Homo sapiens: one gene and its partners. The protein of the gene in region 1 purifies or fractionates together with the protein of each later gene. This does not show direct contact. Each region holds a gene or a part of one and is shown in the gene's direction. Other genes may lie near its edges. The genes, in order: MYO1C, RBM33, SDCCAG8, RAI14, TMOD1, DEK and SPTBN2.

The links.
Region 2: the proteins of MYO1C (region 1) and RBM33 purify together in Homo sapiens (affinity purification with mass spectrometry; one large-scale study listed by BioGRID and IntAct). This does not show direct contact.
Region 3: the proteins of MYO1C (region 1) and SDCCAG8 purify together in Homo sapiens (co-immunoprecipitation; one study listed by IntAct). This does not show direct contact.
Region 4: the proteins of MYO1C (region 1) and RAI14 purify together in Homo sapiens (affinity purification with mass spectrometry; one large-scale study listed by BioGRID and IntAct). This does not show direct contact.
Region 5: the proteins of MYO1C (region 1) and TMOD1 purify together in Homo sapiens (affinity purification with mass spectrometry; 2 studies listed by BioGRID and IntAct, with this or other methods). This does not show direct contact.
Region 6: the proteins of MYO1C (region 1) and DEK fractionate together in Homo sapiens (co-fractionation; one large-scale study listed by BioGRID). This does not show direct contact.
Region 7: the proteins of MYO1C (region 1) and SPTBN2 purify together in Homo sapiens (affinity purification with mass spectrometry; one large-scale study listed by BioGRID and IntAct). This does not show direct contact.

Annotation. Positions count from the first base shown.
Region 1 is NC_000017.11:1,486,187-1,489,686, reverse strand, and holds part of MYO1C (unconventional myosin-Ic), read left to right. Parts: intron 1-2,014; exon of another isoform or gene 2,015-2,031; intron 2,032-2,457; exon of another isoform or gene 2,458-2,476; intron 2,477-2,555; exon of another isoform or gene 2,556-2,735; intron 2,736-3,500.
Region 2 is NC_000007.14:155,647,661-155,651,160, forward strand, and holds part of RBM33 (RNA-binding protein 33), read left to right. Parts: intron 1-3,500. UniProt on the Homo sapiens protein: RNA reader protein, which recognizes and binds specific RNAs, thereby regulating RNA metabolic processes, such as mRNA export, mRNA stability and/or translation.
Region 3 is NC_000001.11:243,259,041-243,262,540, forward strand, and holds part of SDCCAG8 (serologically defined colon cancer antigen 8), read left to right. Parts: intron 1-3,500. UniProt on the Homo sapiens protein: Plays a role in the establishment of cell polarity and epithelial lumen formation. Also plays an essential role in ciliogenesis and subsequent Hedgehog signaling pathway that requires the presence of intact primary cilia for pathway activation.
Region 4 is NC_000005.10:34,806,328-34,809,827, forward strand, and holds part of RAI14 (ankycorbin), read left to right. Parts: intron 1-136; exon of another isoform or gene 137-155; intron 156-1,472; coding exon 1,473-1,530; intron 1,531-2,256; coding exon 2,257-2,327; intron 2,328-3,500. UniProt on the Homo sapiens protein: Plays a role in actin regulation at the ectoplasmic specialization, a type of cell junction specific to testis. Important for establishment of sperm polarity and normal spermatid adhesion.
Region 5 is NC_000009.12:97,539,666-97,543,165, forward strand, and holds part of TMOD1 (tropomodulin-1), read left to right. Parts: intron 1-3,500. UniProt on the Homo sapiens protein: Blocks the elongation and depolymerization of the actin filaments at the pointed end. The Tmod/TM complex contributes to the formation of the short actin protofilament, which in turn defines the geometry of the membrane skeleton.
Region 6 is NC_000006.12:18,261,731-18,265,878, reverse strand, and holds the start of DEK (protein DEK), read left to right. Parts: upstream 1-1,348; 5' UTR 1,349-1,494; intron 1,495-1,665; exon of another isoform or gene 1,666-1,781; intron 1,782-1,882; 5' UTR 1,883-1,891; coding exon 1,892-2,036; intron 2,037-4,148. UniProt on the Homo sapiens protein: Involved in chromatin organization.
Region 7 is NC_000011.10:66,687,717-66,691,216, reverse strand, and holds part of SPTBN2 (spectrin beta chain, non-erythrocytic 2), read left to right. Parts: intron 1-933; coding exon 934-1,178; intron 1,179-1,273; coding exon 1,274-1,412; intron 1,413-2,036; coding exon 2,037-2,121; intron 2,122-2,367; coding exon 2,368-2,564; intron 2,565-2,905; coding exon 2,906-3,048; intron 3,049-3,137; coding exon 3,138-3,213; intron 3,214-3,298; coding exon 3,299-3,349; intron 3,350-3,500. UniProt on the Homo sapiens protein: Probably plays an important role in neuronal membrane skeleton.

The DNA of each region.
Region 1 (3,500 bases):
GTTTGTTTGACACTGGGTCTTCTGGGGTACCCAGGCTGGAGTGCAGTAGCACCATCACAGCTCACTGCAGCCTCAACCTCTTGGGCTCAAGCAATCCTCCCACCTTAGCCTTCCAAGTAGCTGGGACCACAGGCACACACCATGCCTGGCTAACTTTTTAAAAAAATTTTAGTGGAGGCAGGGGTCTCACCACTATGTGGCCCAGGCTGGTCTTGAACTCCTGGCCTCAAGCGATCCTCCCACCTCGGCCTCTCAAAGTTCTGGGGTTACAGGTGTGAGCCACTCACTGCACCTTGCCTCTGTTCACGTTTGCTGGACCCCCCAGGCAGAGGTGTCTGGCAGCCAAAGATCCATGGTTGTGTAGCTAGAATGGACAGTCCTTGACCAAGGCCCTGTGAGCAATCAGGGTAGAGACCCTAAGTCGCCACTATCTCCTCCCCATTTCCCTTCACAACAATTCCCTGAGGTCTGGAACGGTCCTTGGTGGGCAGCCAGGCCCAGATCTAAGATTTGTTTAATAAACAGAAGTTGAAGCCCTGCTCTGTGCCACCCGTGAGACAAGCTGTGGCTGCCTTTCTGCTGCCTTGGGCTCAGTGGACATCGGTTTATAGCAGCAGTCCCGGGTGCCTCAGATGACACCTCCTCCCAGCCCCCAACACCCCTACCCCATGGCAAGATCTGTGTGCCCTTAGGCTGGGGGAACATTTGAGCTTTCCGCTGTCCGCAGAAGTCAGGCTTGTAGGCACCTGGCCTATAGGAGCTGAAGGGCACTAGATAGCCCAGGTCTGCTGGGCCACCCCATCCCCTGTGGTTCCAGTAAATGCCTCCCCAGGTGGGAGAAGACCCAGAGGCAGCCTTGGGGAAGAAGTCTCCTATGTCACTCAGGGGCCATGGCCTGCAGGGAACCTCTAGGCCCAGAGCCAAAGGCCCTGGCCCACTCCTAAAGCCCACATGTGACATAATAGAATCACACGACACCGACAGGGGCCTGAACGGTGTCACTGAAGGTCACAGCCCTGGTAGCCCTGATAACCGCACAAAGAGGCTCAGGGCAGCCCTGCAGTAAGGTGTTCCAGTGCCCGGGTTCCAGTCCCACTCCTCCTGAGACCTTGCACAAGTCACCTGCCCAGCCTCAAGTTCTTCTGCATTGGAGTGATGATACGGACCTCACGGCTTGGCTGGCGTCACTGAAAGGAGTAACCCAAGAAAGCGCGGAGAACGCAGGAGGCGCCTGGCGCTGCAGCCTCAGCCGCGGCGTCTTTCCCACCCAGGTTCCCCGCTTCCCTCCCCGCCCGGGGCTCGCGCTTCCGTCCAGTGAGGAGGGGCAGGCCGGGGGTTGCCAGTGCTGGAGCCGCCCTGGGGCCCGCGAGCGGCGGAGACGCCCCCTCCTTCCGCCGCCGGGCGGTGGCTGCGGGGGCGCCAGCGGGCATCCCGGGAATGCGGCGGCGCGGCCCGGGAACTGGAAGAAGCGGGCCCGACCCCTCCGCGCGCGGATTCCCCTCATTCCAACCGCGTGACGTGGAGGGGCGGGGCGGACACTGCGGCCGCGAAGCTCCGCCCCGTCCTCTGGCCGCGCCCCCGCTGGCTCCTGCCACGCCCCCGGCCCGAGTCCCCCACGCCTCGCGGGGCAGGGAGAGAGCTGAGCTTCCGGGAGGGGCTCTCTTGACCCTCTACCCCGTCTTCTAGGACGTTCCCCACCCCTGGGCGGGCTGGAGGCTGGGTCGCCTCCTTGCTCCCTCTAGATTTTCCTTGTTCTGTTTTGTTTGGAGACGGAGCTTCGCTCTGTCGCCCAGGCTGGAGTGCAGTGGCACAATCTCGGCTCACTGCAACCTCCGTCTCCCGGGTTCAAGCGATTCTCGTGCCTCAGCCTCCCGAGCAGCTGGGATTACACAGGCGCCCACCACCACGCTCAGCTAATTTTTGTATTTTCTAGCAGAGAGGGGGTTTCGCCATGCTGGTCAGGCTGGTCTCGAACTCCTGAACTCTGATGATCCGCCCGCCTCGGCCTCCGAAAGCGCTGGGATTACAGGCGTGAGCCACCGCGCCCGGCCCTCCCTCTAGATTTTAAACCTGGGGGCACCGCAGCGGGCGTCTCCTCCCGCCCTCCCCCGCCTCTGTCCGAGACGCCGCCATTCCCCCTCCCCCGCTCCCACTCCCCCACCAGCTGGTGCCCCCGCTCGGGGGTCCCCAGGGCCGCCGCTCCGGCCGGGTTGTTGCAGTGACGAGCCTTCCCCGCAAGGATCCGGCCCGCACCTGCCGCAGCCTCGCCCTCTCCCCAGGGAGCGGGGTCCGCGAGCTGGGGGTGGGGCGCTGGGGCTTTGGGTTCCCGCTCTGCCTAACCCCACCAGGGCGAGTCTGTGTACGCCGTTGTGTTGGTGGAGGAGGCAGGTGCCTGCAGACGCGCCTGAGGCTCTCCCCACCGGATCGGAAGCGTGGCCCACGGCCTGGCTCTCAGTAGGCCTCTGCCCGCAAGCAAGTGAGAAATGAGCGTCCGGCCGAGGGAAGGCGGCGGGTGGGGGCAGCGAGGTCTATAGGGGGTCTGGAGGTGCCTTCACGCTCTATCTCAGGCCACCCAACGGCCCTTCTAGGCCTGTGTTAGCCTCATGTTAGGGATGAAGAACAGAAGCCGAAACGTTAAGTGACTTGCTCAGAGTCCCACCGCGAGGAAGAACCAGCCCAGCCTTTTGCAGACTCTAGACGTCCCCGCCCCTGCCCGCGGTGGGATCTGAGCCAAGGTTCGCCCCAGGCGAGGGAGGGTGGTGCCCGCAGAGCCAAGCGAGGGAGGTTCTGCCGAGGCCGCTTCGGAGGTGGGGGGCGTCCCGGAGATCCGGAGGGACTAGGGAGGCCCCCTTCAAAGCAGGGAGGGAGATGGGCCGGGCGCGATGGCTCACGCCTGGAATCCCAGCACTTTGGGAGGCCGAGGCGGGTGGATCACCTGAGGTCAGGAGTTCCAGACCAGCTTGGCCAACATGGTAAAACCCCGTCTCTACTAAAAATACAAAAATTAGCCGAGTGTGGTGGCGCACGCCTGTAATCCCAGCTACTCGGGAGGCTGAGACAGGAAAATCGCTAGAACCCGGGAGGCAGAGGTTGCAGTGAGCCGAGATCGCGCCACTGAACTCCAACCTGGGAGCCAGCGCAAGACCCCGTCTCAAAAAAAAAACAGAAAAAAAAAGGAGGGAGGGAGGAGGTCCGGGCCCAGAGGCGAGTGGGGTGTCCCGGGTGGGGAGAGGCTGTGGGCCCCAAATGCCGTGGGCGGGGGGGACGCGAATTTCCCAGAGGGGGAACTGAGCCCTCCAGAGGGGCCGGGTACTCCGCGCGCTCGGCCAGGGCACCCGTTGGCCGTCCCTGTCCCTGGGGCGCGAGCTCCGTGCTGACGAGGAAAACCAAGATCTTCCTGGGTTCGAGGCTCGGACCAGGCCCCGGCGCGTGTGGGTGGACGGCGTCCCGCACGGAGAACGCTCCGCCCGCCGGGCGCGCCGGCCGTATTTGGACATTGG
Region 2 (3,500 bases), on another chromosome or scaffold:
TGATCTGCCCGCCTCAGCCTCTCAGAGTGCAAGGATTACGTGAGCCACCATGCCTTGGCATGATACATTTCAAAGGAGTCATTTGGTATTGCAGCCAAGTAGTAAGGATAGAGAAATGGAATTGCTATCCTTACTAATAGCAGAGAGAATGACAACTGTTATTTATTGGAGACTGAAAACAAAAACATAAAGGCAAAAACATGGCATTTTGGGGAAGGAACAAATAGTTTAATGAGTTTCAAGATCTTCTAGTTCCAGTGCTTCCTTGTAAAATATAAAATAAAAAATCAGTACACAAATCGTAAAAAGCCTCCAACCTAGTGAGTGCGTTATCTCACTTAAGATTTACAACAGCATTCTTGGGCCTGAGCTAATCTGATTTTATAGGTGAGGTGAAAAAATGGGTGCTTGTAAATTTTTTGTTTTCTAGTCAATTCTTAGAAATAAAAAGTTTTAATGGGAAATTTCAAACACATCCAGTAGTAGAATAATGAACCCACATACCCATCACCTAGCATCAACATTCTGGCAATCTGTTTTCATCCCCCCACCTCCACTTTTGTATATTTCAAACAAATCCTAGGCTGGTAAAATTTTAGAGCAAGATACACTGCTGGGATGAGTTAAGACTTTAGATACTAAACCAGTTGCTTTAATTTACATTTGATAGTAAACTAGCCGAGAAAAGTTCAGCCACCTAGCTGTTAAGAAAGGGAAGTAGACTCGAATTCAGGTTTTTTGACTTCTAGTTCAGTGTTCCTTCCACTGTGTCAGTATGTAGTAAGGCAGGAAAGTATGAAGCATGGTGCAGAAGGTTTTCATTCGAAATTGTGAAAGTGAAACAAGTTTTAGTACTTCAACAGGTAAAATTTACCTGGTAGGAAATTTTTGGAGCATTTTAATCACTAATAGTGCTGATAAATGAGATGTTTTCATACTGATAATTATGTGTGTATTTAATTCTTTTTTTTTTTCCTTCAAGAAAATCTTTCATGCTTAATTTCTTAGCTTCAATCAAGAGAGTTTGAGGAGTCGGGAAAGAATAGCCTTTCTCATTTCAGCCATGAGTACTTTTAGCATTTCTTGTAGGGCAGGTGTACTAATGACAAAGTCCCTTAGGTCATACCTGGGGATATAATTTTTGAATGGCAGTTTGAAATATTTCATCCTATCACCTTCTGGCTTCCATCGTTTCTGATGAGAAATTGACTGTTAATCTTATGGAGGATCCTTTGTACATGACATGTCACTTCTCTCTTGGTGTATTCAAGATTCTCTTTGTCTTTGGCTTTTGATAGTGTGATCATAATGTGTTTCTGTGTGGGTCTCCAGATTTATCCTGCTTGGAGTGGTGAGCTTCTTGAATATGTAGGTTCATGTCTTTCACCAAATTTGGAAGCTTTTTATTTTTTTCTCCAGTTCTTTTTCCTGCTACTTTGTTTTCTCCTTCTGGGACTCCCATAATGCATAGATTGGTACTTTTAATGATGTCCCCGTTTTTTAAGGCTCTGCTTATTTTTCCTCTGCTCCTTAGACTGGATAATTTCAATATTTTCCTGTTTCCTCACCTATAGCACCCTTGTTTTCTTCAGAACGTTTATCTCAATTTGTAATTTTCTTTAGTTATTTACTTGTTTTTTAAATCTGCCTCCCACATAAGCCTGTAAGCCTCATGAGGAGAAAAAATGCTGTTTTACCATGCATTCCACATCTTCCTGGCACATAGCATGTGTTAGATATTTGGTGAATGAATTAAAGAATGACATATTTTCTGTATGAATCTGAAAAAATATAATTGTATCCTAATTTATGTTAGTCAATTCCACATGATTCACCTGTGTAACTGATTAAATCATGTTAGCTTGATTTTTTCGGTCCCTCAGTTTTGGGACTGAAAATTGGACATTTTAAATATGGTGATGTGGAAATTTTGGAAGTCAGAATGTCCCCCCCCTTTTCTGGGTTTGCTATATTTCTTGTTGTGGCCTTCAGTTGTCTGGTTTTTTAATGACTTGCCAAATGAAGAGACTCTATTCCTTGTCTCCTGTGGTCACTGATGTCTCCATTGTGTTGTATCATTGCCCAGCCAGTGATCTGATGGAGATGTCCTCAAATGGCTGGAGCTGCAAATAAAACAAAACCAAAACCAAAAAACAAACAAAAACTCCTGTGCTTACGTTACTTCATTGCTCATCCAGGCCACCTATAACCCCAACCTTAGCCTCACCTTCTGCATATGCGTAGCTCAAAGATCAGCCAGAGGTATAAATCTAGGGTTCTTTCAAGTTGTTTTCTGAGCATGTGCCCAGCCTTCAGCATATGCATGGTCTTCCAGATTTCCCATTATACATGGGAGCCCCCAACACTCTCATTCCTTCATATATTTTCCTCCTCAGCCTCTTCTTTCCCAGGCTTTTCAGTTTGTATGTTGCTAACCCTGGCCATCATCCCTTGCCCCAGGTGACCCTGGTTAGTGGATGTCTTTAAATGCTTTTGACAAGCACTGCCTGGGATGCCGCTCTAGCTCTGAGAGAGTTCTGAAGGGGTGGTCTCTGAGCTGATTCCTCAGCTCAGGTCACAATGCACAATCACAATTTTTTGAGGACAGGTTCTTATTGACCCCTTTAGCATCACTGCACCAGGAGCACTGACTGCCATCCCCAGTGCTGCCTCTGAGCTGTGAAACGCTTTCTCTGCATCTGTTGTGATTATGTGTTCTTCCCCTGTTCTTTAATCTCTTAATGTAATCTATTGATAGATTTCCAGTGCTGAACTAAGCATGCATTCTGGGGTTCAAAATCTTGATCTCCACATTTTGTTCTTTTTAATATATTGTTGGATTTCATTTTAGGATTTATCTCTGATCATAAGGGAGACTGACTTACTGTTTTCTTCCTTGGTATTTGTGTGTACATTTGTGCTATCCTTTTATTTATGATATGTTGGTTTTTAGAATGAGTTGTGAAATTTTCTGGGATGGTGTAAAAATCTGTTATTGACTGTGGAAGAACTCTTTTCTCCAGAGCCATTTGGGTCTGGTTCCCTTTAAAAAAGTTATCTTTTCAATTTCCTGTATTATTATTGATTTATTTAGTTTTATAAGATGAAAAGTCAATTACGATCATTTAAATTTTCCTAGAAAAATTATTCTTTATGTTCAGATTTCCACATTGATATAGAGTTAAGCAATGCCACAGCTTCTTTTTGTTGTTGTTGTTGTTGTTTTTGTTTTGAGACGGACTCTCGCTCTATCGCCCAGGCTGGAGTGTTGTAGTGGTGTGATCTCAGCTCACTGCCACCTCCACCTCTTGGGTTCAAGCGATTCTTCAGCCTCAGCCTCTCAAGTAGCTGGGATTACAGGCACATGCTACCACACCCAGCTGATTTTTGTATTTTTAGTAGAGACGGGGTTTTGCCACGTTGGCCAGGCTGGTCTGGAACTCCTGACCTCAGGTGATCTGCCCGCCTCGGCCTCCCAAAGTGCTAGGATTACAGGCGTG
Region 3 (3,500 bases), on another chromosome or scaffold:
AAGTGGCCGCATAAAAATGCAAAATGCTTTCCCTATTTTCCGTGATCGTACTTCCATTTTAAAAAGATCTTTTCCTGGGGCCGGGCGTGGTGGCTCACGCCTGTAATCCCAGCACTTTGGGAGGCTGGGGCGGGCGGATCACGAGGTCAGGAGATGGGAGACCAGCCTGGCTAACACGGTGAAACCCCGTCTGTACTAAAAAAAAAAATACAAAAAACTAGCCGGGCGTGGTGGCGGGCGCCTGTAGTCCCAGCTACTCAGGAGGCTGAGGCAGGAGAATGGCATGAACCCAGGAGGTGGAGCTTGCAGTGAGCCGAGATCGCGCCACTGCACTCCAGCCTGGGCGACAGAGCGAGACTCTGTCTCAAAAAACAACAAAAACAAAAACAAAAACAAATTTCCTTATTTCTTTAATGTTGGTACTATTATGGTATATCAAAATTTGAAGTTCTAATGTGAAAACTGAGTCAGCATTTACTTTCTTGTTTTTAAAATGAGGTTGGGCGCGGTGGCTCACGCCTGTAATCCCAGCACTTTGGGAGGCCGAGGCGGGCAGATCACCTGACGTCTGGAGTTCGAGAACAGCCTGAGCAATATGGAGAAACCCTGTCTCTACTAAAAATACAAAATGAGCCAGGCGTGGTGGCAGGCGCGTGTAACCCCAGCTACTCGGGAGGCTGAGGCAGGAGAATTGCTTGAGCCTGGGAGGCGCAGGTTGCGGTGGGCGGAGGTTGCAGTGTGCTGAGATCGCGCCACTGCACTCCAGCCTGGGTAACAAGAGTGAAATCCTATCTCCAAAACAAACAAACAAAAAAAGATATTTTCCTCATTTCTTTAATTTTGGTACTATTATGGTATATCAATAATTTGAAGTTGTAATGTGAAAACTGAGTCAGCGTTTACTTTCTTGCTTTTAAAATGAGATCCTTGCCTCATTTTGACCTTGATGATCTTGGAGCAGCTCCACATTCACCTTTCATCCATTCCCTTACACTTTTCAGTGGATTTGCTGTTTGACTTCTCTAAAGATATCTCTTGCTTTGGGTCGCCTATGCCCTTTTACAAGAAATTGGAGACATTTAATGATTCTTCTTCAAAACGAGAGTTCTGGCAGAAAAACCGGAAGGCTTTGTTGCCCCCACAGATCTGTTGTATTATTCCTACATAGTAAATGGTCTGAAAGTTTCCAGTGTGGTTAAAAGTGTATGTGTCCTGGGTATCCTGGGAACCACAGAATTTAATCTAGAACTGGAAGTGATTTGGGAGGTCTCTTGGCAGTAAGGTTAGGTGTTCATTTACTCTATGGGTAGTTATAATTCAACAACCACAGAATGGCCGAGAACTACATTTGTAAGTGGGCAAGATAGCACATGCGCCTTCTCTAAATTCAATACATCGTTGTATAAAGCCAAGAGGTATGAAATGAACTATTTCATAGCCAAGAAAGGGTGAAAAAAGCCACAATTATAGGCAATCCAGGCTCTATTTTAAGTACTGCACACTTGAGTGTAAGGGGATATCAGAAAGGAGAAAAATTGCTAGAAATGCAGTATTTTAGCCTTAATAACAGAATCATGTCTCATCTCTTGCTGCAGCGTTGGGAATAGATAACAATTTTATCAACAACACCTGTATACATGACTCACCTATTCACCTCATTCCTAGCCACCTTTGGTTGGGTGAGTATAAGGAAAAATGAAACAAACTTCTTGTATGACAGGAACTCATGATTTTCTATATACATTTTGCATTCTGGTTTTACCTTTTTCTGTCAACATTTTGGTGTTTCAGCCTTTAGATGAATTTATGGGAAGAGTGTGGTGGGGTCAGAGGAGAGAATGTGGAGCTGGGAGCCAGGTCACTGCACTTACTTTTGCTTTGCTGACAACCATCTGGGTAACCTTAGGCAAGTGAAACACACTGTTCTTGGATTCCCGTTTCCTCAACTGTAAAACGAAAAGTTTGGACTGGATGTGAGAATTATTGCCTTTAGGTGCCAAGCAAATGATCAAAAGGTATGATGGAGTCAGTGGAAGACATTAAGGGAAATGATGAGGCTTATGGCCAAATTGGGCAGTTTCTGCTTTTTCTAAAAACATTTCAATTTCTTCCTTGCTCCCTCCCTCTTTGCTTCCTTTTTTTTCTTCTCTCTTTTTCCCTCTTTTCCTCCCTCTTTTCTTCCAAGAAGGAAGCCAAGCAAAACACACCCAGAGCCTGATTCCCCTTTAGACACCACTCTCTGACCCTTTGATCATTAATGTTCCTTCCATCAGCACTTGTTTGGACCAGATGAATGATTAAGGGCTATGTTTTTGTCTTATGGAAATGAGAGTAAGGAGTTGAACCAGGTACACAGAAAGTGAGAGGATGAATATGAGAAGAAAATATATAATCTCAGGGATGGGCCTTGTCTTTACGAATTGATGTAGTTCAAGAAAACCAAAGATAAGGTTGACTTTCTATGTTTTGCTTGTATATGATTAGCACATCTATCCAAATCCTGCAAAGTGGCTCACAATTGTAGAAGGGCTGTGTTAGTCTTACTAGCCAACAATTTGGTCAGTGTATTAGCCAGCAGTGATATCATCTGGCTGTCTTAAGAAAACATATGTGTAACTCAAATAAGTATTCCTGTTTTCTTATAAAACTTGTATTTCTTTTTTGCTTTTCTCAAATATTTTCTGGATTTTTAAATATTGTTTGCCATATGCACTATATAGGAATATACACACATAAACATGAGGGGTTTTTTGCTGATAAAATTCAAATTATACATATTCATCTTTTGTTTTATATATTCATGTGGCTTTTCTTTTTCTTTTTTTTTTTTTTTTAATCTCAGCTCACTGCAACTTCCACCTCCCAGGTTTAAGCGATTCTCCTGCCTCAGCCTCCCGAGTAGCTGGGTTACAGGCACGTGCCAACACACCTGGCTAATTTTGTATTTTTAGTAGAGACGGGGTTTCTCCATATTGGTCAGGCTGGTCTCAAACTCCCAACCTCAGGTGATCTGCCTGCCTTGGCCTCCCAAAGTGCTGGGATTACAGGCATGAGCCACGGTGCCCGACTTTTTTTTTTTCTTTTGAGACAGGGTCTTATTCTTTTGCCCAGGCTGGAGTGCAGTGATGTGATCTTGGCTCACTGCAACTTCTGCCTCCTGAGTTCAAGCGATTCTCCTGCCTCAGCCTCCCGAGTAGCTGTGATTACAGGTGCCACCACCACGCCCGGCTAATTTTTTTATTTTTAGTAGAGGCAGGGTTTCACCATGTTGCCCAGGCTGGTCTCGAACTCCTGGCCTCAAGTGATCCACCTGCCTTGGCCTCCCAAAGTGCTGGGATTACAGGCATGAGCCATTGTGCCTGGCCTCATGTGGCTCTTCTTAGTGCCTTTAACTTTTATGATCTTTTATTTTACTAGAACTTAAAAGTACAATCTCAATTTTTCTTTCCTACTACTGATGAGATAAAATTGGCAAAAGACAGGATTTAGCAACCAGAAAA
Region 4 (3,500 bases), on another chromosome or scaffold:
TTCATCCTAAGTACAGCATGGAAGTGTGAGGGGCTTTTAAGTAGACAGTGAGAGTCACAGTTTTAAAAGAGAATTCTGTTTCTTTAGAGAATTGATAAAAAGGGGAAAAATGCAGAACTGGGGAGACGTGCCAGGAGGCTACCTTAGCTGTTCAGGTGAGAAGACGCTGTCCTAGAAAAGGGTGTCGGGAACAAGAAAGGGAAGAGGGTAGAGTGGAGGCGAGTTTTGGAGAAAAAAGTTGACAGGGCATGGTGGTCCACTACATGTGGGGTGAGGAAGAGGGGTCGGGGAAGGGGGTGGAGGATGAGGAGGAATCAAAGCTGAATCGCTGGTTTCTGGCTCAATGTCTAGACTGATGATGATGCTGTTGATGGAGAAGGCAGTCAGGGAGGAGCAGGTGGGGCACGGGGGAGGGGAAGCCAGAGATTTTGGCTGGGCCTTTGAGATGCTAATAAGACATCAGAGCAGAGATGTGAAGTAGGCAGTGGGTTATCAAGCCTAGCGCTTGAAGATGACAACTTTTGTGTATGAGTAAGAATACAGGCCCTAGCCCAGCCTGTCTGAGTTTGAATCTTGGCTCTGCCATTTACTGCGACTTGAGCAAATTATCAACTTTTTTGTGCCTCCGTTTCTTCATCTGAAAGTGGAAGTAATGATAGTATCCACCTCGTGTTGTTAGGGGACATAAAGCAGTTCTTTGAACAGTGCCTGGCACGTGAGAGCTAATACTTACATAGCACTTATTGTTGTCACTGTTAGGACCTCCGCATTTGGGAGTCACTAGCGTTCATTCTTCTAGATGATATTTCAGGTTGTGGGTGTGGAGGAGCTTACCAGGGAAAAGAGCTTAGAGGAAGAACACTGAGGAGCCCTGAGGTTTTCTGTTTGGCTAGAGGAGGAGCCGCAAGAGGAAAAGCAGAATAAGATGAGCCAAGCAGGGCTCTAGGAGCTGAGAGGTTGGAGAGAGGAGGACAGAAATGTTTATCGTCATTGGAAACATGAAGGTTTTTGGTGACCTTGACCAAGGCCATCTCCTTGGACTCGAGAGGGGACACCCAACTGCAGTGGTTTTGGGAGTGAATGGAGGTGAGGGTGCGTGGACTGCATGTGGGTAATCCTTAAGAGAAAGCTGGTTTCGTGAAGGGGGACAGAAAGGGCAGGAGATGGGGGAAAAGAAAGGATTAAGATGAGAGAGCCTAGAGTATGTCTATTAGCTGGTGGGGTGCTGGAGTGATGAGGGAAGGAGAGGAACAGATAGGTGAAGCAGCAAAGAGGGGAGAGTTTGCCCATCCCAAAGACATGAGTCTCCTTCCCCATAGGAGACTGTAGGCCCCTGGAACACAGCAGCTGGGGCTTATTTATGTTAATAGTCTTCCTAATAAGTCACATCATACCTTGCAGGAAAAGTCTGAACTGAATAGAATTGGGGCAGGGTATTTTATTATATGGATGTATTTATTTTTGTCTTATAGTCTAAATGCCCAGCCGAAAGTGTCGACAGCTCTGGGAAAACAGCTTTACATTATGCAGGTAACTTTCATTCTCCTATTTGTCTTCTTCTGCCATTAGAAACACCAACTTTTCTTTTTCCTTATTCAGGCCATTAACCTTCCATACTATTCCTGGTGCTCTTTTCTGTCATCATTTCTAAACATTCCCATTTTACTCTGTTTGTAAAACATACACAGTTTTACCGAGGCATATGCCTAGAATTCATCAATTCCTTTGCCACCTAACCACTGAAAATTATCACGATTAATATATTTTAACTAATTTAAGGTTTCTTTTTAAACTAAGAGATATTCTAAGCATTTGTAGATTTCAGGTAATGTGTGATACAGACTTTTTGATTTGAGGATTATTATGAACATCAGTCAATTTTATTTACTAATATTTTGTTTAGTATGATTACACAACTTGAAGTGACAAACGTTGACACTGAACTATGAGTGATTAGATTTACACATGTGTTTTATTGCTAGTTGTGGAAAAGCTAAGTCCTGTGAAAACCTGAGCCAAATATTTGCCTAAAGGCAACTGGCAGTCATTGGCTTTAGGCCTGCATAACTCTGAAATTAAGCAGTAATTTTAAACACCTCACTCCTAACCTTCCTAATACCATTTCTCTTCAATGCAACTAGAGTGAATATATGTAGAGTGGGTAGAACATGAACATTTCCTTCCTGAAGTATCTGATACCCCTGGTTGTGAATAACTGTGTGATTGGCTGTGGTATTTATATTTTCCTTCCCCCAGCGGCTCAGGGCTGCCTTCAAGCTGTGCAGATTCTCTGCGAACACAAGAGCCCCATAAACCTCAAAGATTTGGTAAGTACCAGGTGGTCACTAGAGGCAGAGGTAGACATTGGTTTCTAGAGCTCAATGGGATACCTCTAGAGTCACTGAGACTTTAGACTAGCAGTCTCCAACCTTTTTGGCATCAGGGGCTGATTTTGAGGAAGATAATTTTTCCATGGATGGGGGTGGGGATGGTTTCAGGATGAAACTACTGCAGCTCAGGTCATCAGGCATTGGAGTGCACAACCTAGATCCCTCACGTGCTCAGTTCACAATAGGGTTTGTGCTCCTATGAGAATCCAGTACTGCTGCTGATCTTATAGGCAGTACTGCTCACTCGCCTGCCACTTACTCCCCGCTGTGCAGCCAGATCCTAACAGGCCACAGACTGGTACTGATCTGCAGCCCCTGGGTTGGGTACTCCTGTTTTAGACAACTAAGTATTGGGCAAATTCTATTGCTTTTCAACCTAGATTCTCTTCTGCAAAATGGATTTATGTATTACTCTTAACCCTTTTCCCATTTGCTCCAAGAATACTCACCAGTGGCGTTTGGGGATACAGCATTTACCTCAAGATAACTTTGCCACGAAATATCTCATTTTTATTATTATTATTTTCCCATCACTCTAGTGTATTGACTTTGGAAACAAAAGACATCATTCTGTTTATAGCATTCTGTTTTTAGTAGTGGTATTTCCATTTACAAAATGTAGTAATTCTCGACCACTGAAAATGTCAAATCCTAGAAAACGTAGCATTCCTATGTGTGATGTTAATATCGTTCTCAAAGAGATCTTGGCTGAAGATTCATTTGATGAATCCGATTTTTCTGAGACAGATGATTCTGGTGTTAGTTCTGTTTAGAAATAACTCCAAGAACAGTTTTTATATTTTATTTTCACATTGAAAATCAGTCAGATTTTCTTCAGCCTCAAAGAGTGTGTTTATATAAAATTAAATGAGCTCTGGCAGAGAGCTGCACTTTTTTTTTTTTTTCTAAACTGGGAAGAAGGTTAATTAGCTTCTAAAACATTAGTAAAACATTTTGCAGCATATATTTCCTATATAGGTATATTTATTTCTACGGCTATACATGTTTTCTACCATCAATGTAATTACAAATAAAGCTTAATTTCTTGATTTTTAAAAATAAGTCTAAATAGAAATTTTACTACTTTCTTTCTGCACTTGGATAACTTCT
Region 5 (3,500 bases), on another chromosome or scaffold:
ACTTAAAGTGCACCATTCAGCCCGGGTGAGGTGGCTCACGCCTGTAATCCCAGCACTTTGGGAGGCCGAGGCGGGCGGATCACGAGGTCAGGAGATCGAGACCATCCTGGCTAACATGGTGAAACCCCGTCTTTACTAAAAATACAAAAAATTAGCCGAGCATGGTGGCAGGCGCCTGTAGTCCCAGCTACTCAGGAGGCTGAGGCAGGAGAATGGCGTGAACCTGGAGGTGGGGAGCGGAGCTTGCAGTGAACCGAGATCATGCCACTGCACTCCAGCCTGGGCAACAGAGTGAGACTCTGTCTCAAAAAAAAAAAAAAAAAAAGAAAAGAAAAAAAGAAAAAGAAAACAAAAATGCGCCATTCATTGGTTTGTTCTTTTAGCATATTCACAGAGTCGTATAACCATCATGATCAATTTTAGAACATTTTCATCACCTCAAAAAGAAACCTCATGCCCATTAGCTGTCACTCTCCATCTCCCTTCAACCTTCCCAGCTGTATTAACCTGTTTAGGCTGCTCTAACAAAATACCACAGACTAGGTGGCTTAAACAACAGAGACTTATTTTTGCACAATTCCGGAGGCTTAGAAGTCCCAGATCAGGGTCTTGAGGGGTTAGTTTCTGGTAAAGACTTTCTTGCTGGCTTACAGACAACAGCTTCTCTCTGTGTGTTCTCACGGTGACTGGTTGGGGAAGGAGGTGTTGCAGCAGCTCTCTGGTATCTCTTCTTATAGGGACACCAATCCTATCAGATCAGGGTTCCACCCTTATGACCTCATTTGACTTTAATGATCTCCTTACAGGCCCTGTCTCCAATTATAGTCACTCTGGGGGTGAGGGCTTCAACGTATGAGTTGGAGGCACACATTCCAGTCCATAACACCAGCCCTAGGCAACCACTAATCTACTTTCTGTCTCTACAGATTTGACTGTTCTGTACGTTTCATATATTGTATGGAATTGTATAATACATGGCCTTTTGTATCTGGCTTCTTACACTTAGTATGATGTTTTCAAGGGTCATTCACGTTGTAGTACTACGTTTTTTTTCACAGCTGATAATATTCAATTGTATGGGTATACCACATTTGTCTTATCCATTCATTAGCTGGTGAACATTAGACTTGTTCGTACTTTTGTTATTATGAATAATGCTGTTATAAATGTTCGTGTACAAGCATTTGGGTGGACATACATCTGCTGCATCATATGGTAACTTTATGTTTAACTTTTTGAGAAATTGCACAACTATTTTCCAAAAGGGTTGTATCATTTTACATTCCTACCAGCAGTGTATGAGAGTTCTAGTTGCTCTATATTCTCATCAGTACTTGTTATTATCTGTGTTTTTTTATTATTGCCATCCTGCTGGCTGTGAAATGGTATCTCATTCTGGATTTGATTTGCATTTCCCTAATGGATAATAGTATTGAGCATTTTTTCATGAGCTTTTTGGCCATTTTTATATAATCTTTGGAAAAATGTCTATCCAGATCACTTGCCCATTTTAAAAAATTTATTTATTTTTATTTTTATTTTTTTGAGATGGAGCTCTGTCACCCAGGCTGGAGTGCATTGGCACAATCTCAGCTCACTGCAATCTCTGCCTCCTAAGTTCAAAGGATCCTCCCACCTTAGCCTCACGTGTAGCTGGGACTGCAGATGTGCGCCACCATGCCCGGCTAATTTTTGTATTTTTAGTAGAGACGGGGTTTCGCCATGTTGGCCAGGCTGGTCTGGAACTCCTGACCTCAGGTGATCTGCCTGCTTCAGCCTCCCAAAAGTGCTGAGATTACAGGCATGGGCCACTGTGCCCAGCCACTTGACCATTTTTATTTTTTATTTTTTATTTTTTATTTTTTTTTTTGAGACAGTCTCACTCTGTTGATCAGGCTGGAGTCTAGCGGCGTGATCTCAGCTCACTGCAACCTCTGCCTCCTGAGTTCAAACAAATTTCATGTCTCAGCCTCCTGAGTAGCTGGGATTACAGGCATGCACCACCACGCCCGGCTAATTTTTGTATTTTTAGTGGAGACAGGGTTTCACCATGTTGGCCAGGCTGGTCTCAAACTCCTGACCTCAGGTGACCCACCCACCTTGGCCTCCCAAAGTGCTGGGATTACAGGTGTGAGTCACCACGCCTGGCCCATTTTTAAATTGGGTTATTTGTCATATATTATTGAGTTGTAAGAGATTTTTATGTATTCTAGATATGAAACTCTTATGAGATACATGATTTACAAATATTTCCTCCCAATCTGTGGTTTGTCTTCTCACTAGTGTCCTTCGCAGCACAAATGTTTTTAATTTTAATGAAGTCCAAGTAATCTACTTTTTTATTTTGTTGCTTATTGCTTTGATATCTTATCTAAGAAACCATTGCCTAATCCAGAATCAGAAGGATTTATGCCTATGTTTTCTTCCAAATGTTTTATAGTGTAGTTCTTATATCTAGGTCTTTGATTCACTTTGAGTTTTTATATATAATGGGAGATCACATGCTGTTTTTGAAAACGAGTTAAAGTGGTAAACAATCAGGAGTTTAAAAATATGCATCTATCTTTGGTTTTACTGACAATCATGTGATATTTTGTTAAACATACCATTTAATAGAAAGAAAACAAACTTTAACCTCTAATGAGGCTGATATTCTCAATATTTACTTTAAAAATGTGATAAGCTTAGAGTTATTAGAAAAGGCCTTTGACATTTTTGTTTTTACAAATCAACTGCTTTCAATAAAGACTTGAATAAATGAAGCCATATTTTTATGTTATGTAAATAATATTTTTGAAATACATTAAAAAATCTGTATTATATAACATGTTATAATTATATGGCTTTTTGTTTAATGCAGTGGCTCTCAATCAGGGGCAATTTTGCCCCTCAAAGGAAATTTGGTGGCTGGGCATGGAGGCTAATGCCTATAATTCCAGCACTTTGGGAGGCCGAGGCTGGTGGATCACCTGAGGTCAGGAGTTCAAGACCAGCCTGACCAACATGGTGAAACCCCGCCTCTACTAGAAATACAAAAATTAGCCGGGCATGGTGGTGGGCATCTGTAGTCCCAGCTACTGGGGAGGCTGAGACAGAATTGCTTGAACCCGGGAGGCAGAAGTTGCAGTGAGCCGAGATCACGCCACTGCACTCCAGCCTGGGCAACAAAGTGAGACTCCATCTCAAAAAAAAAAAAAAAAAAGGAAGAAAATAAAAGAAATGTGGCAATGTTTGGAGACATTTTTGGTTGTCACAACTGGGGGCAGTGCTACTAGCATCTAGGAGATAGAGAGCAGAAAGGCTGCTAAACAATCTCCAGTGGGTAGAGTGGCCTCCACAACAAGGAAGTGTCCAGCCCAGAATGTCAGTTGTGCTGAGGTTGAGAAACTCTGCTTTAACTAAATCCGTGGCCTCTACCAGATAGATTCGAAAAGAGATGAGAGTTTGCAAACCCTTCTCCCCTCAGTTACAACCCCTGAATTTCTTCTATCGCAATACTT
Region 6 (4,148 bases), on another chromosome or scaffold:
GTCGGGACAACCCCCCTGCAGAAAGGAGCAACCCACTTCAGGTCTCAGGAGAGCTGTTCTGTCCCTCAGTGAAGCTCCTGTCCACCTTGCTCACCCTCCAGTTGTTTGCGTGCCTCACTCTTCCTGGACACAGGACCAGAACTCAGGACCTGCCAAATGGTAGGATTGAAAGAGCTGTAACACAAATAGGGGTGAAACACAACCCCCCACTCCCAACCACGTTGCAGGCAGCAAGAAGGAGAGATGAGCTGTGGAGTGTGGATAGGATTTGAGTGGGATAAATAGTGTGGAAAATGGCATACCGTTTGAGGGTAGAAATGACACTATTCGCGTATGTTTTGGAAGGGGAACAAAAGGAAAAGGGAAGATTCAAAGGAAATGTCTAATTTTTGTCCTGCAACCCAGAGTCCAGGCAAATTTCACTGATCACATTTCTATTAAGTCCACTGAGTACAAGGATCCTTCAGGTGAGCTAGTGGTTGAAGAGTTGGGAGAAAATAAAGGAAATCACATACAAAAGAAGGCAGCATTGAGCAGGGAAGATACTGCTTTGAGTGTCTGCAGTGTTGAATGTGTAAAAAGCATCTGCATAGATGACCTAGAACTCTGGGAGAAGGGTCTGGACCCGGCCAAATAACATATTTCCTCTATTATAAAACAGAGAGTGTGTGTGAGAGAGGAGAGGAGAAGGAATGGGGTGGGAGGGAGCCTCTCCCCTTATATTTACAGGGGTGTAAATCTATGTGGCTGGCTATGTGAACCTTTAACGTGGCAGGTAGGATCTTTTTCCTTTCGGTGCACCTTACAAGCGATGCGGTCCTCAGAAATACAGATTTGGGAGTTATCTATCACCCAGCATGATTTCTGGAGCATTGATGAGACCGCTGATTAATTCTCCTCCGCCTCAGAGTAACACTGTCGATAGCGACTTCGGAGATCTCTAAACTTCTTTACCGCGCCCGCCGCGCCCCTCCGCGGCCCGGGACTGCTCATCATCTTTTCCAGGAAGCGACCGTGGAAACAATAAACACGCAGGCCCCCTAGCGTCCTTCCGTTCCGCGCTGCCAGGCCGCCTCGCCTCCCGCTCCCGCCCGCCCCGCGGGACACAGCCCGCCCGCACTCCGGGGCCCGAGCGCCGACCACACTCCAGGCGCAGCCGGGGAGAGCCCCGCGCGCGCATCCCTCCGCCCGCGGCCGAGGCGACCCCTCGCGGTCCCGCCCGCCCGAGCTTCCCGCGGAGGCACCCGGCCGCCCCGCCTCCCCCGCCCCGCGCCCGCCAACTCCCAGCTCGCGGCCCTGATTGGTCGCCGCATTCCCGCTCTCCTTCCCGAACCGCCATTTTGAAAATCTTGTTGATTCTGGGGAGCCGAGCGCGCGGCGCGAGCGTCACGCCAGACAGCGGCCCGCGCGCCTTCTCCTCGGCGTCGGCCGCCGCCGCCTCCCAGAACCTCCTCGTGCCCTCGCGTGCCAGGCCCGCGGCGGCCGAAATCCGCGGTAAGGGCTGCTTCGGGACGCCGGAGGCCCGGTCGCCCCTGCCGCGGCCGACGGGGGAGGGACGCGGCCATTTGGACGGCGGCCTGGGGCGGGGGAGGGGACGTGGAGGGCCGGCAGCTCGGGCCGGGCCGGGAACAGCGCAGGCCGGGCGGGCGCGCGCGCACGCGGGGCAGCGGGCGCGGTTTCCCGCCTCGGGAATCCCTGGACGGCGGCGGCGGAGCGGGAGGGAAGCCGCCCCTGGGGACTGAGCGCTGCGGTCCCGGCTATGGGAGGAGGCAACTTTCAGGGCAGGTGTCCCGCGGGAAGGGTAGCATCATTCAGGGTGGCCGCCCGGTCCTGCCTGCGGGAGTAGGAGGACCGAGACGTCCGGCTTTCTTCCCGCATGCAGGTTCACAGCATGTCCGCCTCGGCCCCTGCTGCGGAGGGGGAGGGAACCCCCACCCAGCCCGCGTCCGAGAAAGAACCCGAAATGCCCGGTCCCAGAGAGGAGAGCGAGGAGGAAGAGGACGAGGACGACGAGGAGGAGGAGGAGGAGGAAAAAGGTGGGGGGAGTCGCATCCCAACTGATGAATTTTTCAGACCGAAGTTTTTTTGTATTTTTCACCCAGGAAACAGTTTTCTTGCTCTTTTGGTGTTTAGAGGCGTGAAGTCGGAGTGATTTTCAGCGAGAATGTGTGCACAATTTATCTGCTTTTGTTTTGAGCGATGGCGTAGAATTGACTTTGTGTATTCCGGTTTTTAAAGTATTTGTTAGCGTGGTAGAGATGTATTGGAGTGCAGCCGACTTCTCGTCCGCTCTAAACGTTCGTTAACATTTCATCATTTGACGGGAAGTTTGTAGGTCTTGGATTTGATTTTTTTTTTTACCTGTGTGTGTGCACCTTTGAAGTTGCTAAGTGGATGTTCTAATTTTGTCCTTTTCATTACACATCTTTTGCCTTTTGAAGTTATTGTAAGGTCTTGGTGCAGCCCGTTAAGACTGAAGTTATAAGGCTAGACCCGGAAGTATTTGAATACTTTCGAATATTTTTACATTTACCAAAAAGTTTCCCTCCCTGGCAAACAGCGGTGAAAGCTGTTGCTACTTGAGAAAGTAGTTAAAAATGAAGAAAGTGAACTCTGAAAGAAAGTTAAATGTGAGCCCAGCACTGTCTCGGTTTCGAACCTGTGTCTGTTTTAAGGGAGGGCGATATGAGCCCTGATTTGACTGGAGGTGTGAAACGGAAACTTGACTGAATAGAGGAGTGTGCTGCGGCAGTTTATCCAGGATGCATGCAGTGTCTGTTTCAGGTGTACCCGCTTCTTGACATGTTTCCAAACATTTAAAAATCCGAGTCGCATCTCTTAGCATTCTTTGATATTAGCTTAGTCTGCGGTTATTTCGTATATGTTTACGACTCAGCCACACTTGGGAAGAGGTTGAAGCGCTCTTCCTAAACCCGGATTTTTTTTAAGCCTCAACCAGCCTGTGGTCACAATCTGGGTTAAGATTACAAGGTGTGCCTTTTGTTTGTTTAAAGTGGTATGTGCCCTAAGAAGGGCATATTTAAGTAAAGCATGGCTTTTTAAATATAAGTTTTCACATAAACTATTGCTTAACAACATGTTATTTTAAAATTATTTTTAATACAACAACAAAATTGGCTGCACTATCTCGCTGCTAGCCAAAGAGGCTCTGCACTTTTTCTCCAATTTTTTGTTTGTATTTTGGTCTTCTGGTGGGGGCAGGGTTGAGATGCCAAAGAAATGGTGAATTTTCTTCATGTCAGGAAAAAATTAGAGAAGTCATGTAAATATACTGTAAGTGGCCAACACAGTAATGCTTGGGGAAGAGTTGGTAGTTGAAAGAATCCCATGTTTTGTTCTAGACAAATTATTTTTAAAAACATGATGTTGTAGAAATTTTATCCCCTAATAGTTTTATTGTAGCTGTGATTTATTATTCTTTTTACTAATTTGAGGTGTTTGTGGGACAAGTAGAATTGTGAAAGTTTTTATTTTACTTAACCCTGAATATTTAACTTTAGAACTGAGGCATCATGGAAGCCAGACAGTGAAATACTTTCTGTATTAGGCTTTTTTTTTTTTTTGCGTTACTATAAAGAAACACTTGAGGCAGGGTAGTTTATAAAGAAAATAGGTTTTATTGATTCGTGGTTCTGCAGACAGTACAAGAAGCATGGCGCCAGTATTTGCTTCTGGTGAAAGCCTCAGGAAACTTCCAATCATGGCAGAAGACAAAGGGGGAGCAGGCATTTCATTTGGGAGTGGGAGCAAGTTGTAGAGGGAGGTGCCATGCTCTTTTAAACAAATCTTGAGAGAACTCACTCACCACCACGGATTACCATGCTAAGCCGTTCATGAGGGATCTGCCCCCATGATTTAATCACCTTACCAGGCCTCACCTCCAGCATTGCAAATCACTTTTCAACACGAAATTTGGAGGGGGCAAACATCCAAAGCATATCATTGCACCCCCGGTCCCCCAACTCTCATATGTTTCTCACATTTCAAGATTCAGTTGTGCCTTCGCAGTAGTCCCCCAAAGTCCGGTCTTGTTTCAGCATTAACACAGAAGTCCCAAATCTGTAAGTCCAGAGTTTCATCTGAAGATGAGTTTCTTCCACCTATGAGCCTGTGAGATCAAAAACAAG
Region 7 (3,500 bases), on another chromosome or scaffold:
TCCCAGGAGCTAGGGTAGAGCTCAGAAATGCTGGGAGGACGGCACTCTTTCGAGGGCCATTTCGAGATGAGGAAATTGCTCCAAGAAAACATCTCTGTTTGGCCAGGCGCGGTGGCTCTCGCCTGTAATCCCAGCACTTTGGGAGGCCGAGGAGGGCGGATCATCTGAGATTGGGAGTTCGAGACCAGCCTGACCAACATGGAGAAACCCCTTCTCTACTAAAAATACAAAATTAGCCAGGCATGGTGGCGCATGCCTGTAATCCTAGCTACTCAGGAGGCTGAGGCAGGAGAATCACTTGAACCCAGGAGGCGGAGGTTGCAGTGAGCTGAGATCCCTCCACTGCACTCCAGCCTGGGCAACAAGAGCGAAACTCCGTCTCAAAAAGAAAGAAAACATCTCTGGCAGGGGACATCTAGCCACTGCATTCACACTTTTGATGACAAGCCCCCTTGAGAGCCCATGATGTCTTCAGGGGTTCCCAGTGGCCAGGAGACTCTTCATGCTGCGCTAAATCAGCCTGTTAGTGCTTCCCAGGCTTGAGCTCTAGGCTCACACTCAGTAAGCATGGATCCTTCCTTCAACCACTAGAACCCATCAGCCCCTGCCTGAATCCCCTTTTCAGGCTAAGTAGCACGTTCTAGCAATCTCCAAGGTCTATCACATCCTAGACAGGCCTCTGAAAGTTCAACTGGCCAATGGCTCTTTTCCAGATCCTCCCCCAGTTAAGCCCAGGTGTCTAGATGAGACCCAACAGGGCAGAGTGTGGCCAGCCCCTGCCTTCATCTTTCCCAGCACCCCCACTCCCTGGCTCCTCCCCCTGCTTCTTTGGCTGTGAGACAGGCAGGAGGTGAGAGTGGCAGCCAGGACTGAGGCAGGCTGCGGCTCCTTGGAGTCCCCCGCTCTGCCTGACTCTGACCCGGGGCTCCGCAGGTCCAGCAGGTGCAGGACGACGGCCACCGGCTCCAGAAGGCCTACGCTGGAGACAAGGCTGAGGAGATCGGCCGCCACATGCAGGCCGTGGCCGAGGCCTGGGCCCAGCTTCAGGGAAGCTCTGCCGCCCGCCGGCAGCTGCTGCTGGACACCACAGACAAGTTCCGCTTCTTCAAGGCTGTCCGGGAACTGATGCTCTGGATGGATGAGGTCAACCTGCAGATGGATGCCCAGGAGCGTCCCCGGTGAGAATCCCAGGGCTCAGGGCCTCCACGGGTTGTGTGGCTGGGCTGTGATGGGGCTGTGGGCAGCAGGTGATGCTGTTTCTGCCTCCCCCCAGGGATGTGTCCTCCGCGGATCTAGTCATCAAGAACCAGCAAGGCATCAAGGCAGAGATAGAGGCCCGGGCAGACCGCTTCTCCTCCTGCATCGACATGGGGAAGGAGCTGCTGGCCAGGAGCCACTATGCGGCCGAGGAGGTGGGTGAGGCCTGGGTGGCCGGGCCATTCTCACTGTGCAGTGCTGAACGCTGACTTCTTGGTGGCTTTCTGCTTCCTCTCATTCTCTCTTTGCAAGAAACCTTTCATTCTCTCCCCTCAGTGCCATTCACGGGTTTCTCGCATTCTGGAAATCTCTCCCCAGAACCGTCTGCCTCTTGACATCAGAAATCACTGGTCCTGGGCCAGGCATGGTGGCTCACGCCTGTAATCCCAGCACTTTGGGAGGCCCAGGCGGGCAGATCACCTGAGGTCACGAGTTCGAGACCAGCCTGGCCTCCATGGGTTGTGTGGCTGGGCTGTGATGAAACATGGTGAAACCCCGTTTCCACTAAAAACACAAAAATTAGCCGGGCGTGGTGGCGGGCACCTGTAATCCCAGCTACTCGGAGGCTGAGGCAGGAGAATTGCTTGAACCTGGGAGGTGGAGGTTGCAGTGAGCTGAGATTGCGCCACTGCATTCCAGCCTTGGTGATAAGAGCGAAACTCCGTCTCAAAAAAAAGAAAGAAAGAAAGAAATCACCTGTCCCCCTGGATGACTCCCCAGGGGCCGTGGAAAGATCTCACATCCTGGTGCTAACTCATATCTCTGCCCCCCGCCCCCAGATCTCAGAGAAGCTGTCTCAGCTGCAGGCACGGCGCCAGGAGACAGCTGAGAAGTGGCAGGAGAAGATGGACTGGCTTCAGCTGGGTGAGCTGCCAAGGGGGCCCCAGGCCCTGTGGGGAGTGGGGGGCATCCTGCACCCTGTGGGTTCCAGAGTAGGTGAGACTAGGAACCCTGGGTGTGAAACTCACGATGCCCAATCTTCGTGCTGCCTGGCACAGCTCTGGGGCAGTGGCTTTCTCTGTGTCCCTGTTCTTGAGGTTGCCATGGCCACTGTGCCCTGCCAGTGGCCACTCTGACCCACCATCTTCCTGCAACCCCCGATCCTGCCAGTTTTGGAGGTGCTTGTGTTTGGAAGAGATGCAGGGATGGCAGAGGCCTGGCTCTGCAGCCAGGAGCCACTGGTGCGCAGCGCTGAGCTGGGTTGCACGGTCGACGAAGTTGAGAGCCTCATCAAGCGGCACGAGGCCTTCCAGAAGTCAGCAGTGGCCTGGGAGGAGCGATTCTGTGCGCTGGAGAAGCTTACTGCGGTGAGGGACACAGGACCCCGGATGCCCACTCCAACCTGCTCCCCTGACCTGTGCTGGCTTCTGCTTGGAGAAGACATGTCTTCTCTCTTCCCACTGCACCAGTGGCCCCCAGATGTGAGCTGAGAGTGCCATTGTCACCACACCTTTAGGAGGTGTCAGTTCCCCTGGGTGATGCCGAGACACCTTCTCCCGCTTTGTTTCTTGTCCCCACCATCTTCTCAAATTCTGTTCTCCTCTTATCATATTTCATCAAATTAGAGTTGAGACATTTCAGCTCTCCCTGTTTCCCTGGCCCTCTTACACGCAACCTTCTACACGCTGAATGCAGCATTTTTTGACAGCTAGAGGAGCGGGAGAAGGAGCGAAAGAGAAAGAGGGAGGAGGAGGAGCGGCGGAAACAGCCGCCTGCTCCCGAACCCACAGCCAGTGTGCCTCCAGGGGACCTGGTGGGCGGCCAGACAGCTTCTGACACCACCTGGGACGGGTGAGAGCCAGGATGCCTGGGTAGGAGGAGGCGGCTGAGCCCAGGCCACCCAGGGACTAATGATTCTGTGTTGCCTTTGGTCATCCCAGAACCCAGCCACGGCCACCACCATCCACACAAGCACCCAGTGTTAATGGAGTCTGCACAGATGGAGAGCCCTCACAGGTGACCCCACTGTCCCTCTGTGCCCCCATCGGAGTCGTAGCCCCTCCACCCCCGCACATCCTTTTACAGATTCTTGTCCTTGCAGCCCCTGCTGGGACAACAGAGACTTGAGCACAGCAGCTTCCCCGAAGGGCCGGTGAGTTCCCCTGCAAGTGTGGTGTTGATAACTGTGAGGCGAAGGGTCCAGAGGGGGTGGTGAGTGCGGGTGGGGGAGTACTGGGGATGGGATGGGAGAGGGCAGAGGCTCACAGGCAGCTTGGGGGCAGGAAGACCAACTCCTGGACACG